Linked DNA regions of Homo sapiens. The protein of the gene in region 2 interacts with the protein of the main gene of each other region in a biochemical or structural test. Each region holds a gene or a part of one and is shown on either strand. Other genes may lie near its edges.

Region 1 (7,776 bases), on a different chromosome or scaffold from region 2:
AGGTAGGCAGCCTGATGCCAGAGACCAGACCACTATTCTAAAGCAGTAGCATTGCCCCACCTAGAATGGAATGAATAAGATTGATATTTTCTAGTGAGGCACTACCCAGTCCCCCCAGTCAGTCTGACCTACCCACCTGGACATGCAGCCCACCTTGCTTCAGTTGTAAGGATGGAGGGGGCCTGTGAAGTACACCATTTTAGCGTCCTTTGGGGAAAAATGTAGCTAAGGAAACTGACATGCAGGGGGGTTGAGGTTCTCCCTTAGGGCTCCGTAGGCAAGCTAGTAGAACAGTAGAACCCACTGACCTCAATCCACTAATCCCTTACTCTTGAATGATGAAAATTTGTGGTATCCCTGAAGGGCGAGACCCAGAGAAGTGACCAGGGCCCTGGGCACACAACTGCTCATATGCAATGACTCAAGGTCACCCAAGGGCACAGGGTATTGCATGACAAGGCCAATCACATCCAATGGGTCATGAACCTCCTTCTATGGTACAATGAGGCTCCAAACCAGGGGCTTCCTCCTGCCAGAGGCTCGGCATGAACCCTCACTCTGGTTAGGGAGAAGGGTGTTTATCTGTGAGACTGGAGGAGACCAAACACCCAGTCTGCCCTGGAGATAGCACGACTGACAGCAAAAAGAACTCTCTGCCAAGTCAGATTACAGCAATGACAACTGGACATTTCCCCCGAAAGGCCCATGGAGAATCACATTTTGTGGGTCTGTTGCAGGATGAGAGCCTTAGAGTGGGAAAAGGAAGAAATCACAGCCAGCCAGCAACTCCTAAAAGCTTTGCCTGTGAGGCTAGCGGAGACAAATCTGCCCACCTTGTTTGATGACATTGTTTAAGAATTCTCCTGCCTGTTTTCTTTTTCCAAACTGTTAACATTGCAGTTAATTACCTACAATTAATTACAATAACAAGAACTATCAAGGTTCCTACAACTGCAACCACATATGATCTTTATCTTGATAGAGTCAGACTCTCTCCTCCAAGCAACCTAGGAAAATTCCTTCCAAAGGAAGAACCTAGCCTCAGTTTAGCACCAGTTAACACCAGGCATTGGTCGCTGGATGCTAACATATATTAGCTACCTCATTTACTTCTCACAACCACATTAGATCATGGGGATTATTATCTCCCATCTTACCGATGAAGAAACTGAAAGTCAGAGAAGTAACTTGCTCAAGGATATAAATGAAGGAGATTGCACATTTTTCCATCAGGCCTATGTCCACTTGAACCAATGGGTGGAGTTACCACAGGAACTCTGGACAGGACTTGTGTGTAAATTACCCAACAGACCAACTGCATTCTAGTCAATCTGACTCTGAATTCCAGTCTTTGTCACTTCTTTTCTTTCTTCTACCTGGGGGTACAGTGTCTACAGCTTTGTTCCTTTAGTACTCAGACATGCTGACATACAGTGATGAAATTATTTATTTAATCATAAATTAACTACTGTGAAAAGCACTAATCAACCATGGTAAACCAGAGGCAATGTAATCTTGAGGAGAGGTTTAGATGCACTTTTATCAGAAGATCCAAGCTTTGAATCAAGTGAGAACCTTAGTAAGAGACAAGTGGTGGCCAAACCCCCCCCCTTAAACTCACAAGCTTGGGGAAAATAATAAACAAAGGTCAGTTAAGGAAGAACAATAGGGACCTCCAAACAGTAAGACAGAAATTAGCAACAAGAACTGGGCAGATTCTTAGTGGTGAGGAACGACTGTCTGTCTAAGGCAAAAATGATCTCAGCTTGTTTCAATTCATACCTTGGGAGAATTTACATGCATTTTGTATTTCTGGGTGGATGAACAGGAGCATAATTCCTAACAGATTATTCCCTTGCAAACATCTGCTAACTTAAATCTCAGAAAAACAGCTGATGTTGGAATCTAGAATGAAGTGTCTCGCAGATTTATTTCTTTTTCCAGTTTTTCCAGCTCATCCCAGCAGGCAGCTGGGCTTAAAAATGGTTTCCTTTCTCTGACAACAATATTGGCTAAAGAGTTTGACTATTGGGCTGTCAAGATACAGGCTGTGTGATCAGGATTAAGAAAACAAAAATGGATCCTAGAGGTAAAATTACTTTAAAAGCCAGGTCCTGGCAGAACAACTTCCTCGGTATATTTGCTATTAAAAGAAAAAGAGACAGAAAAAGCCAAAGAGGTCCAAAAAATTAAAAATCAGACCTGAAGTCACATTCTTGCAGCAATGAGGGAATTAATTCTTACTGTAACCAAAGGTCAGCAGGCAGCCAGTCCAGGTCTAAATGTAAACAAATTCTAAATGCACACTGCAAAGTCGTATTTAAAAGAGTGTTCAACAAAGAGCAAAGAAAATGGTAGACTTTTTCAGAGAAGAGAGGAAAACTGGAACGCACAGCTTCTGAATAGGGCAACAGAATTTGCCCTGAGGAACAGGTTTTCAGGGGGAAAGAAAAAAAAACTAGGGACACTTCACAGGTTTAGATCAAAATACAGGGAGGAAGAAAAGGAAAAATAAGAACTCTGAATCCAGTCTGCACTGGCCTCCTAGCCCCCGTTAAACGGGCTGAACAGATCTGCACCTTCGCGCTAAGTTTCAAAACAAAAGCCTTCACTCTACTTCTCTTTAGGTTGTTGTTGTTGTTTTAATCAGATCAAGTACGAGGACAAGCACAGGCTGGATTAATGATCAGAGAAACAAAAAGGATTAAATATCTGGCCTGGGAGAAGTTTATTGTGCAACTAGAATGTCAAAGTCATCTCTCTACTCTTCTGTCTCAAAAAAGCTTCTCCCTCTGGGGCAAACACTAGCGACAAGCCGTTCAGCTTGTATTTTTTCATTCAAATTCCGTGTTCAGATCCCTCAGGGGCCAGTGGTCTAAATGCCAAGAGAGAAAAATGGAGGGTTTCAACTCACCTCTTCAAGCGACTGTCTGGGGCTCTCCAAGCAGCAGCAGGCAGGCAGCTCTCATTCCTTGTGGGTGAACCGAGCAGCTCCTTGGGCCGCCGGAGTTGTGACCAGCCTCAACTTCGGTGAACAGGTGCCTGGAGGAAGGAGGACGGCATTGGTCGCTCCAGACCAGGAAATGGGTGACATCACGGAAGCCCCGACAGATAAAGCATTGCTGAGACCTTAGGGATTGAAAGAGTCAGGAGGCCCCGCCCACCTGTCATTTACCTGAATACCTGCAAGCAGGTAGGTGGCGTCTCTTTGTGGACAAATAAATCAGTTAGAGCAATTTGCCAGGTGGAATTTACTTTCTTTCCTGAGCACAGCACGTGTCCAGCCCCGTGTTCAGATCTGAAGTCAAATGCCTGGTTGTTTCCCAGGCCCTCCCCTTTCCCCATATCTGCCCACAAAGGAGTTAAAAGGGAAGTTTAAACACCAAAATGAGACAGTAATTTAGCAGACACAAAAAGGAAGAGTGTGAAGCCGAACTTCTTAGAAATATCTGAGGTGCCTTTTCGAACCGCATCCATTTGAACACCAAGTGTTTCTCTAATTCCAATAAAATGACAAATTTAAGTTGACATTTCCAATTCATCTTTTAAACAATTTGAAATAGGATACCTGTCAGCAGTTTCAAAGTGGTTTTCAAACACTTTTGCGCTACCCCCTCCCCCGCCCAGCATTTTTAATTCCATATTCAGGAATTTGCAAAACTTCAGTCATTCCTATCTCGGCTGGCTTGGCAGTTAGAGTCATACGGCAGTTACAGTGCACTGCAGGCCTGCAATTAGGAGCAATTTAAATGATTCAGATTGGAATGGTAGTACTGTCATTAGGCGATGTTGTCTGCTGATATAGCCAGGAAAGAGACGTCAGAGTTATTTCTGTCCCAAGCGTGGTGTGTGACCCTGGACAAGTCACTGGTTGCTTCACCTTTTCCAGCAGGAAAGGAGGCGTAAACTCATCCAGCACCAGAGCAGGCAGCTGGGAGGTATCCCAGGACTGTTAAACTCTCTGGCATCTTCCCAGGAGGGCTGTAAACATCTCCCATCATCCCATTGAAACGCTGCGTATTTTTACCACCTGCATCCAGCATCCCTGGAACTCATTACCTGAGGAAACTGTGGATTCCCCGTCCCGGAAGATGGCCTGCCTGCCCAGAGAGAATTTTTTTTCCCCTTCAGGAAAATAAATGTTGACATTCCTATTTTCCTCCTACTTTTGCCTCCCTCGTCTTCTTCTTTCCCTCCTCCTGATTTTGGGAATGCTTTTGTTCCACCGGTTTTAATATTGGACTACCTAGAGGTTTTGGGGTTTGGTTTGGGGGAGGGTGGAGGAAGAAGGAAAAATGGGAGAGGGAAGAAAAGGAAGTCCGGATTCCCACAGCCTGGGCCTCAGCTGGCTGCAGTCAGTCAATAGCTCGCAAAGCAAGGGGGAGGAGAAGGAAGAGAAATTGTAGTCGAGGGCGGGGTCTGGGGGCCGGCTCTGGTGCTCGACCTCAGGGGAGCTGGCTCCTGTCCCCGATCCGCCCCAGACAGGTCTAAGCTACCTCTTTGCACCTGGGAACTCTGTGCCTTTTGAGAGTTGAAGGCTTAAAACAACAACAACCACCACAACAAAACTATTCACCTTTTTATCCAATAGAAACTAAGGTAGGTGTGGCTATTCCTTTATTATTTAAAAGAAAAAAAGGGAGGTAACAAAACCTTTTACACTCAGGTGTTTCAGGAAAAGGTTTCACGCCACTAGTTTGATAATTGAGAAACATCACTCACACAAAGGCCCCCCTCTTCACGCGGACAGGGTGTCCCCTGGGCAAGGGGGAGGGGAGGGAGAGCCCGCCAACCTGATGAATCATCTAGAAGGCCACGCCTTCAGCGGTCTTGCCTTTGGCGAAGGGCAGGATCCAACTTGGGAGGGGATCACAGGCTTCGGTTCAAGGCCTTGGGTGGGCAGGGGAAGGGTGTAGGTGAAATGAATTCGCATAAAGCTTCACCGAACAGCCTGGAGATCGTGAGGTTTCACTTGCCATGTTCACATACACACAGTCATCTACATATGTGGTGTGATGAATTGTTGTAAAACAGAAAGAAAATAGAGAAATAAGAGTTAATCCAGGAGTGGAGCTAACTCCCAGGTATAGTGTATAAAGGAAGAGAAAAAACTACACAATTAGCCTTCTCAGGTGAGATCTTTCTTGGTACTCCTGGATTTCGAATAATATGCAGGGGTTAAAAAAAATAATATGGGCTTTTTTTTTGGGCCATTAGGGCTGTTACATTATCATGGAAATTATATTTCTAAACTACTAGAAAAAAATGTAATCATAAAAATGAACATTGTGTTTAACAGGTGCTACTTATTGTTCTGAGCACTTTATACAAGAACCCTGTGTCAGGTATCATTGCTATTTGCATTCTACAGCTGGGAAAACCAAGACATAGTGAATCTGAGAAACTGCCTAAGGACAAGCTCATCGGCAAGCGGCAGAGCAGTTTTTAATCAAGGCCCACTTTTTAACCACTGGAAAGAAAAGAGGGAAGGTTCTGATTTCATGCTCACTGGGACACTTCCTGGACACATTCAGCTTCTTACCCATTATTCAGAAGGAGAAGTAGAAACCTGTAGAAGTAGCCCTGGGGAGGGTAGTTTCTGATAAAGGATGTCTCCATTTGGAAATTAATTAGTAATCTGGTCTATATGCTGAAAGTGTGTGTATAATATATATATATATATGTATATATAAATATGTATATATTCATAAATTCATGCATATATTTATGAGAAATCATACCAGGAAATCCATCGCCCCTGGGTGCACACTTGAAATCATCTTTTGAGAGCTTATCAAATCAACCCCAAGATGGAAGGCCAGCTTGAGGGACCCCTCAAGAATGACCAGTTGTAACTCTCTATGACATCTTTTATGGTCATTTTTCTCTGTAACTTCTGCGGCCTATCACTTTAAAATCTGAAAATTTAATCCGAGTGGCCATAAGAACATGGAACTGCATACATTTGGAAAATATGAGACAATGAAAAATTAAGTTTCATTATAAACCACTACCAGGAAGAATGGTTTAGACTAGGCTTGGCAAATCCTGGACATATAGTGCTCCATTCCCCCCTCCCATACCATTCTCACTGTCATTGCTAAAGACCATGACACTTTTCAACTCAGAAGGAACTTTGGAATCTTGAAGATATTACTCCAGGCACACTAGCAGTTGGTTTTACCCCCCAAGATCAAACCCTTTTCTTTTACTTTCTTACTTTCTTTTCTTTCTTTCTTTTTTAATTTTTTTTTTTAGAGACAACTCTCCCTTTGTCATCCAAGCTATAGTGCAGTGGTGCCATCATGGCTCACTGCAGCCCCAACCTCCTGGGCTCAAGTGATCCTCCCACCTCAGCCTCCCAAGTAGCTGGGACCACAGGCACGTGCCACCATGCCCTGCTAGTTTTTAAATTTTTTCTAGAGATGAGGTCTCACTATGGTGCCCAGGCTGTTCTCAAACTCCTGACCTCAAGTGATCCTCCCACCTCGGCCTCCCAAAGTGCTGGGATTACAGGTGCGAGCCACTTGGTCCCCTTTTCTATCTCTAGTTGGACAGTAAGTGAGACAGAGAAGAGGGCTGATCAGGAAGCAAAAATATTGGTGTTGGCTGGTGCCATTGGGGAATATTTCATGAAGAAAGGAACATGAATTGGGCCTTGAACGATTTGGAGAGGTGGTGAGAGGGCACAGATCATTCCAGACAGGGCAGTGGCATGGGTGGAACAGGAATGATCATAGCAGATATCTGTTGGGGAGGAACATGTGTGTGGTGGGGGAGAAGAGGAATACGAGACAATGAAATACCCACCTTGCTAGGGTGAAGAGGATCCACTGATTGCTAAATTTAGATGGGCTGAGACTGTAAAGAGCCTCGGGAACCTCAAGGGCTAACTGCTTCATGTCCTCACATGCCTGTTGACTACTTTTCTCATGATGATTAAACAGCTTAAGAAAAAGAAACTCAGTATCTTGGGCATGGGGTAATTTCTTATGCATGACAATGGTTTTCAGCATTGAGCTAAACTTCCAGGATATGCCATTTCGGCAACCACATGATCTTTCTCTTTAGGAGCAAGCCTCTTTTGCAGTCAACATATCCTGGAAACTTTGTTCTTTGGATAGGCAGGTGGAAAACATTAGAAAGCTTTCTGAACTCAAAGTTGGGCCTGTCCTAGTTAACCAGCCGGCTCACTTGGGCTTTTTGATTAGTTTGAATTCCTTTATATATCTTGACAGGGAAATCTAAGGGGGGAAGGAGGTCTGTCTTCAAAGCTCTTTTCTTGTAGATCCCCCCATGAAGCTTGGCGTTCTCAAGGACTCCTCCTGGCAATGAACCTACAGCGAAGACCATGCCTTGTGATTCAGCAGAATTACTTTGCCCATTTTGCTTCCTATTTTTTTTTCCCATGACATATTTCTAGAGTTGTCTATGATGATTGAATGCCACAATTAAAATGGACATATTCCATTTGACTTTAATAAAAGTCATCTCTACAAAAACCTCTTTGGCTATCTTCTAAAGGTATTTAACATTATGATTTGGACTTGCTTATTACATTACATACCATCATATTGGCCGTAATTACTTTTTTAAATGGGCTCAGCTCCATATCTTTTATTGGCTAATTATATGTGCTTAGCATAACGCAGATGAGCAGATCTCAGAAGGGCAATTATGGGAAATAAGAGTAATAATCACAAACATCAGCTGATGTGATAGAATGCCATCTGGTTCTGTGTATATGGAAGATATTCCATTTCTCTCACAAACTTA
Region 2 (7,410 bases):
ATTGAGGGAAAGGGGCATGCTGGTGGGGGAGATACATGAAGAGTGCCTCAAGGATGTTTGTCCCATGGCTCAGGATAAAGGGATGGGTTGAGATAGGTCACAAATTTTATATCAATGAAGTACTCAACTCACACCATTCACCAGAATAAAGAGCTCAGCAGGGCTAAGTCCTACTTGGTAGCTGTGCAAGTTCAGTGTTATCAGGATCAGGCTAGGCCATAAACAGAAAGGGACCAAAGAAGTCTAATTGATCCATTTCATCACTCTACCCAATCGTCTCTGTAGAACCAATTAGGTGATATGTGAAAATGGGTCCACTTTTCCTCCTTTCCCATTGGTGCAAAATCTTCTTTTATCCAGTCTTATCCTACATCTTAATGGTGAGGGTCACATAAATGAGGGTGGATACAGCCACGTCTGAGCAGTCATCTGCCTTGGGGCTCCTTGCCATCCCCCAGACCTTCATGAAACCTGCCCTCTCACACATAGGCAGAGTCACTGGACTGAGTCCTGCCAAAATTGGGAACACTGACCCTTGGCAGGTCCTTGTTACGAATCTCATAGATTGACTTTCTCTTGGCCTGAGCCCCTCGCACAGCCAGCTTGATCTTGCGCCATCCCAGGTGGTTGAGTTCAGCCAGGTTGAGCACAACACAGATGCCACTTACAGCAAACATGAACACTAGAAAGACAGTCTTCTCAGTTGGCCGGGACACATAACATTCCACCTCCTTGATGCAGGGGTAGCGGTTACACTCATACAACCCTGGGACACTAAAGCCATAGAGAAAATATTGGCCAACCAGGAACCCAATTTCCAGGGCATTTCGGAACACCACTTGGATAATGTAGAAGCGGGAGATGCCTTCCTGCCTTCTGAGCTTGGATTTTGATGCAGTGCGTAGACCTGATGGGTGTGGAGTCAGCTCCTTAACCTCTAAACAATCTGGCTCTGTCTCCTTACTGGTGTTCTCTGTGTTCTGCAGCACCCCATTCACAATAGCATTTTGCAACTTCTTATCTTCTCGTTTGCCCCCACCACTGCCCCCACCCCCAGTTCCTCCAGGACCTCCTATGGACTCAGGGGGGTCTCTGTCCAGGGCTAGGAAGACTGTAGAGTAGCGGCGTTCTCGCTGCTTGGCGGACTGGTGCACAGAGTAGGTGATGAAGCAAAGACTGGGGGTACACACCATTATGATCTGGAAGACCCAGTAACGTATGTGGGAGATGGGGAAGGCGCGGTCATAGCAGGCCTGGTTACAGCCGGGCTGCAGGGTGTTGCACACAAACATGGTCTGCTCATCATCGTACACCGTCTCCCCCACAATGGCCACAATGAGGATCCGGAAGATCACCACCACAGTCAACAGGATCCTGAACGGAGGAAGAGGGAGGGAGAGAGGTTCTCACGGGCTGCGTCACTGACAGGAAACCCCTGCTCCTCCCTTCCCTTTGCTGGTGTTTACCAGTCTTTTGACTGGGGAGCTGTCCATCCCGGGCTGGTACTGAACTAGGAATCTGGGAAAGCTTTTTGTCTCTTCCTTTTCTGCTGAGTGCTGGTAGGCTGGGAATATTTCATATTATAGAGATCCCAGGTACACACATCTCCATACACTGGACATAGTCTACTTGCAACAGATAGATTTCATCTCTCTATATAGAATGTATAGAAACACAAAACACACCTTCACTCTGGATATGGCAAATGCACACAGAATACCTTTACAGATGGTGCATGCTTCGAGGTCTACACACAGGGTGTGTAAATAACTACTCCATGTGTATATTTAGTTTATTCTCAACATGAATATTAAATTTAATGCTTTATATAAGCAGATGGCTATGAATATATATTCATATATATTGAACTCATATATATATAAAGCTAGGTAGATAGAGACATAGATATAGATACAGACCCAAAAATGGCAATTGGGTGTGTAGGCTCGGTAAGTTTACACCGCCAAATAAGTTTGGTTTAGTAATTATTTGTTGAGAAAAGAGGCATCTGCTCTGAAGAGCAAATCCATCTCCCCATTTGCCCTTTTCTGTCCAAATGCAATCCTGCCTTCTTTGTAGATTCTATTTAGGGAACCAAATGGAGATTGGCTCTGACTCTGGAGAGTGGAGGGACCAAGACTGAGCCAGCGGCTCCTTTTCTGATGTGGGAAGAGTGAAGCCCCAGTGGTGCTTGATGGGGAAGGGATGGGCAGCTGGTTAGGAGTAGCTAGAGGAGGGGGGCATCGCGGGGCGTCGGGTAATCCCTCATCGCCGGGAACACCGGAGCCTTGACCTAGGACGATGGGGAGGAGGCAGAGGACGGACTGGGGATTGGAGCGGGAGACTCAGTCCAGGTGTGAGAAGGGACTCCCGGGGGCCGCCCGACGGGGCCCCCTGACCGCCGGCTTGGCGCCCTTACCTCCCGATCATAGTGGAGTGCTGCTGCACCGCGGCTTCTAGCAGCCTCTCCAAGATGGTCCATTCCCCCATCGCTGTGCATCCGGAGGCAGCAGACAAAGACTGGGCAGCACCGGGCACGTTCCCGCTCCTGGCCCCTCCCCGGGCCGCACTTCCAGAATGGGAGTGAATTGCCTCCCAATTAAAGAAGCAATTTTTTAAAAAATCCTCGAATCCCCCTTTCCTTTTATTGTACTTAAAAGAGAAGAAATGGGGAAAGAAATCCAAGCGCGTCCCGACCGATGGGGCAGTTGGCGCGGTCTAGAGAGAGGGCACGAACCTCGGGCGCCGTCCGGGGTTCGGGTCTGGATCCCGCGGACGCCGGGACGAGGGGCGGGGCGGGGTGGCAGCCTGCAGGTCCTCCAGCGCTCGCCCGCCCAGGAGAAGTCTCAGCGCCGCTCTCCGCCGCAGGTTGGGGGCCAGGGGAGGGTCCGAACACCGGCTCTGTTCCTGCTACTTCAGCGGGCACCTGGCGCTCCGGCGCGGCAGCCTGCGAGGCCAGGGCCGAGCGCGCGGAGCCGAATGCTGGGCTCGGGGATCCGCGGCCGCCGCCTCTAATCCGCCCTTAAGTAGTCTCCGCCTGCGTCACGCCAGGTCGGCGGAGGGGAGCAGAGCGCGCCGTGCGGCTGTCGCTGCGCGTCGGAGCCCGAGGGGCCGGGGACGCGCGCGGGGGGAGAGGGGCAAGAGTCCTGGAGGCCCGGCGGGGAGCGGGGCGATTTCGAAAGGAAGGACTGCAGCGCCCCTCGGGGCTTCTCGGGGAGCCCAGGTAACCTCACCTGACCGCCAGACCCAAGCAGGCGGAGGGGGAGCCGGGAGCGGACGCGTGGGTGAGTGGGGAGGGGAGTGAGTAGGTATCTTCTCTTCTCTCGGTGCATCCCTCACCTTTTCGCTTTTTGCCTCCTGGAGACAACTGAAATTCCTTCCCTAGATGGAGATGCTGGCTGAGGGAGGGCGAGTGGGGGCGACCACTTTTAAATCTCCCTTAGGGGACAGAGTGGCTGAGAGTGCTTCTGCAGAGTGGCTGCGGTTCGGTGCCTCTGTGGATCCGACAGTGAAGTGAGAAAGGCTTGATGGGAATCCATTTAGGCTGAAGGGTAAATGCAGGTGTGGAGCTGTCTCTCGGTATAGGGGTCAGGGCACACGAGCGCATCTAACAGGTGCCTCGCAAAGAGCAAGTGGGGTGGCCATGGTTAAAGGTCTCGCTTCCCCTTGCACTAACCCAGATGCTCGGCTCTTTTTAAATTATTGCTATTATTTTACTAATGGGAAGGGGGGGCGGGGTACTCGTCAGGTAAACTGTGATTTAATCTGAATTTAAGACCCAGTATTCTGCTAGCAGAAACAGAGCCACTCACAGCCTCGCCCTGCCCCCACTTGCCTTACTGGGTTTGGCTTTCTCCCCTCAACCAGCAGATCCCGGTTTTTAAAATTCACATTGTGTTGTCAGTTCTGTCTAGAGCAACTACTTAATTGGTTGCTGAAAAATTGAAACAACCTCACTAAGCTGCTAATTAGCCCAGGGGTCAGTATTAGGAGACACTGTAGCTGGCAGTGTTTGATGTAAATGTACCAAAAGTCCAATGGGAAAGTAATTGTCATCCTTTCGAAAACACGACCTTGAAAGGGTTGCTAACTTGTCCTAGGCATATAAAGGGACCTAGCCTTAATTATCCACAGGGATCATAGCACATATGTATATTACATAAGCCACACCATGGTGAGCCTTCACTTCTGGAACAACCGAGGTGGTTGGGTAGTTGGTGGCCCAGGGACTGGGAAGAAAGGTGCAGGGCATGGCCCTCAGTCCACTCACAGTGTACTTCTTCATAAAATGATGTTTAAACACACGGTCTAAGCTTCGCCGCCAGAAAGATCACTGAAATCCTCTGCTAGGGTTGACATCTTTACCCCAAGAAAGCAGCCTTTCACTGCAAAGGAGTAAAAGAGTCCACTAACAATGGAGAGAGGGATAAAGTGATTTATTAGTTTCCTTCTGAACACGGAGGAGGTTCAAGGGTGAGGACGAATGGATACCCTATTATCCAGTTAGCTTCCAGATGGAATGGTGATCCCCTAACCCAAACTTGGTGTGTTTTCCCAGGTTTCCCTTCTACTCCCCTTGGCCCTAGGTCCCTGTATTCCCTCCTTGTCTGGCAGACTCTCTTATAGTAAATGATCTTAGCCAAGAAGTGAATGAGTAAGTCCAAAGGGAAATCTGTTTAACATCTTTAAATGTCCCAAAATAGGCTGCACAACTCAAAATTGTCATTTTATGTGTTGGCTTTCCCAAACCGTTAAAGATTATGATCCTAAGAACATAGACTGCAGGAAATGCAATTATCAGACACTACGCTATGACTGAATTGTTGATCATTTGTGTATTATTTTGAAATATACTTTAATATGCCATATAGATTCCACATATAAACATGTGCAAACAACATAGGTGTATAAGTGCACAAAGACGCATATATATAGAACCTATATTTTAAAACTCATCAGTTGGACTGTGTAGGCTACTTTTAAATAAAAATCTTAGTCTCACCACCACACTTCAGAAATAACCATTTTTATTTTTAATAACCACTCATAAATTTCACACTTACTACATTGTACTTCCTCCTTCAAGTCCAGTCAACTCCATTTTCAATTAATAATTTGTTCCGATAAACAAATGTGCATTAAATGTGAAATGGTTCTCTGTGGATCCGGGCATCTCTCAGTTTCCTCAGGGCATTGTATCTTCTTGATAGATTCTGATTATCTCAACTCTCCTCTGATTGAAAACCCCCGTTTAAGGCAGCTGGGAAGTTCTTTCCATTACATCTTATTTAAAAGCCATTCTGTTTATTAAAATAATAGTTTTGGATGAGAAACAATGAAATTCGTAGAATGCTCATAGAATAACCTTTGCTGCACAACAGACTGTCTGGGGATCTTCATTAAAAAGACAGATGCTGCGATCCCATCCCAATTCTGCTAAATTGAAATCTATGGAAACAAGATTGAGGTAGCTGTGTTATTAACGGGTTCTCATCCACAGCTCCAATAACAATAAAAACCTGAGAACTTTTAGTTCCATGACTATTAGGGCAGGAGTGAATCCTAGGGATGAGGAAATCTATCATCCATTTGTTTCATAGTGTTAAAACTGACCCAAAGCTTAGCTAGCTTGCCTAAAATCATATGGGTAGCAAAGGAAAAGCTATGAAGAATGTGGTATTCAGAATCCTAGAGAAGATCAAAATTATTTAAAAGTATGAAAAAAATGTGATATTTGAAGAAGAAAAGGGGAATTAAAGTGGGAACATGCTCACCTCCAGACATTTAGAGGAAAAAAATACCTAGATTGTTGATCTGCAAATCTATGTCTTACCAAATAGTATTTTCCATTAACAGAGCAGGGAAATATTATCCACATCTAGTGGGAAAAACTGCAAAGGCATGGAGCAAAGGGTGTTGTTGAATGTTATAATACAGGAGAGAATGTAGAGCTACTAACAATGATTCCATTTACTACATAGGGGTGTCTGAATTTGTTCTTATCCTTATATGTGCTCAAAATTTCATTCTCTTCTCAACCACAGACTCCCAGGTGAACCTTTCAGCCTTGCAGCTTCAAATGTTTTGTAAATGAAACCTCATAGGAGCTTTGTATATGTTGTAAGAATGAACATTAATCTACTGACCTCTATTCTACTGGACTGTAAATTCCTAGAGATCAGAGAGCATGCTCATATGTCATGGTTCTTTTCATAGCGTCTTTAAACTCAAGCATTTGTTGAAAGTGAAGGTCAGCTATTCTGGCTCTCTATTCCCCTCAGCCTAGCAGAACTGCACTTTTCCTGAGGAGAAGTGGGTCCTGGGTGTCCTCCACAATCACAAGTAATATTCAAGTCAGAAAGGAGAAAGGGGCTCCCTTTGCGAAGTGAAAGTTCCTACACACTTAGGATAGCCTGGACCCCTCAGTAGAAAGCCTTCTTACTAACCACCAGCCCCCTGCCCTCACTTCCATTATTCTCTCAATACTGCAGTCCAGACACCCGCTGAACTGACCGGGGGAATGCAGCTGAGCAGGTAAGGCTTGGGCTGCAGCATCAGAGAGGCAACCCCAGCTAGCTGAGCTCAGTCCTGGATTGGGAAGGACCAGCATCTGTAGCCTCCTGAAATTTGTGTGGCATGGGAGGGACTGCATTCGATTTGGAATTGATCTCTGTGTTGAACTCTCCTACATTTCATTCACAAATAGCTAGGATTAACTGAGCTTTATCTCTCCCAGTGGCCTACGTGCATCTGTTTCCTAATGAAACCATCAACTTGTCTTCTTAAGGGGCAACCCCAACCTGTCTTGGGAGACTCAAAAGAACCTAAGTGGCAGATGGAATCTATTTTTATTTGCTGCAAAGTGGTTTTTCTCTTTTTTTCTTTCATGTGTCCTTCCCTATGTATAAGCCTCAGTTCAAATGTTTAGGAAAACACTTGATTTTGCTGTTCAGACAAAATTTATGAAGTAATGTTTCCAAAGAGAGTAAAGCTGTCCGATGTACCAATCTTAAGTAGCCCTAAATATAGTGGCTTGCTTTGTGGTCTAAGATTCTCCAGAATCTGCTATCTTCAAAATTATTTTGCCATCTCATGGACCCAAATGCCAAATCATGTCTTAGGCCCAAGAGATTATGTATCCAAATGGTAAGGAAATCTAAAGTCTTCTGCCTGCTAGTTCTTTGAATAAAAGAGTATATAGCCTTTAAAAAAATTACATATACAAATTCCCCCATTCCCCGACTACCTCGTATATAGAGAATATACCTATGTGTAATAATATCTCAGGGATTAATGTAATATGGTATTGTGGCCAAAGCAGATGTGTGAAATCACAGCAAATAAATTAACACTGCATTAAGAATCAAATCATTCCTGCTGACACATAATCTTTCACTTTTATATCAAGTC

What was found. Proteins that work in one complex are often made in the same cells at the same time.
Region 1: the proteins of GJD2 (region 2) and LNX1 form a complex in vitro, tested with the Homo sapiens proteins (2 studies listed by BioGRID and IntAct, with this or other methods).

The regions. Positions count from the first base shown.
Region 1 is NC_000004.12:53,588,474-53,596,249, forward strand, and holds the start of LNX1 (E3 ubiquitin-protein ligase LNX), read right to left. Parts: upstream 3,014-7,776; 5' UTR 2,915-3,013; intron 1-2,914.
Region 2 is NC_000015.10:34,751,999-34,759,408, forward strand, and holds the start of GJD2 (gap junction delta-2 protein), read right to left. Parts: upstream 3,001-7,410; 5' UTR 2,491-3,000; coding exon 2,420-2,490; intron 1,375-2,419; coding exon 480-1,374; 3' UTR 1-479. UniProt on the Homo sapiens protein: One gap junction consists of a cluster of closely packed pairs of transmembrane channels, the connexons, through which materials of low MW diffuse from one cell to a neighboring cell.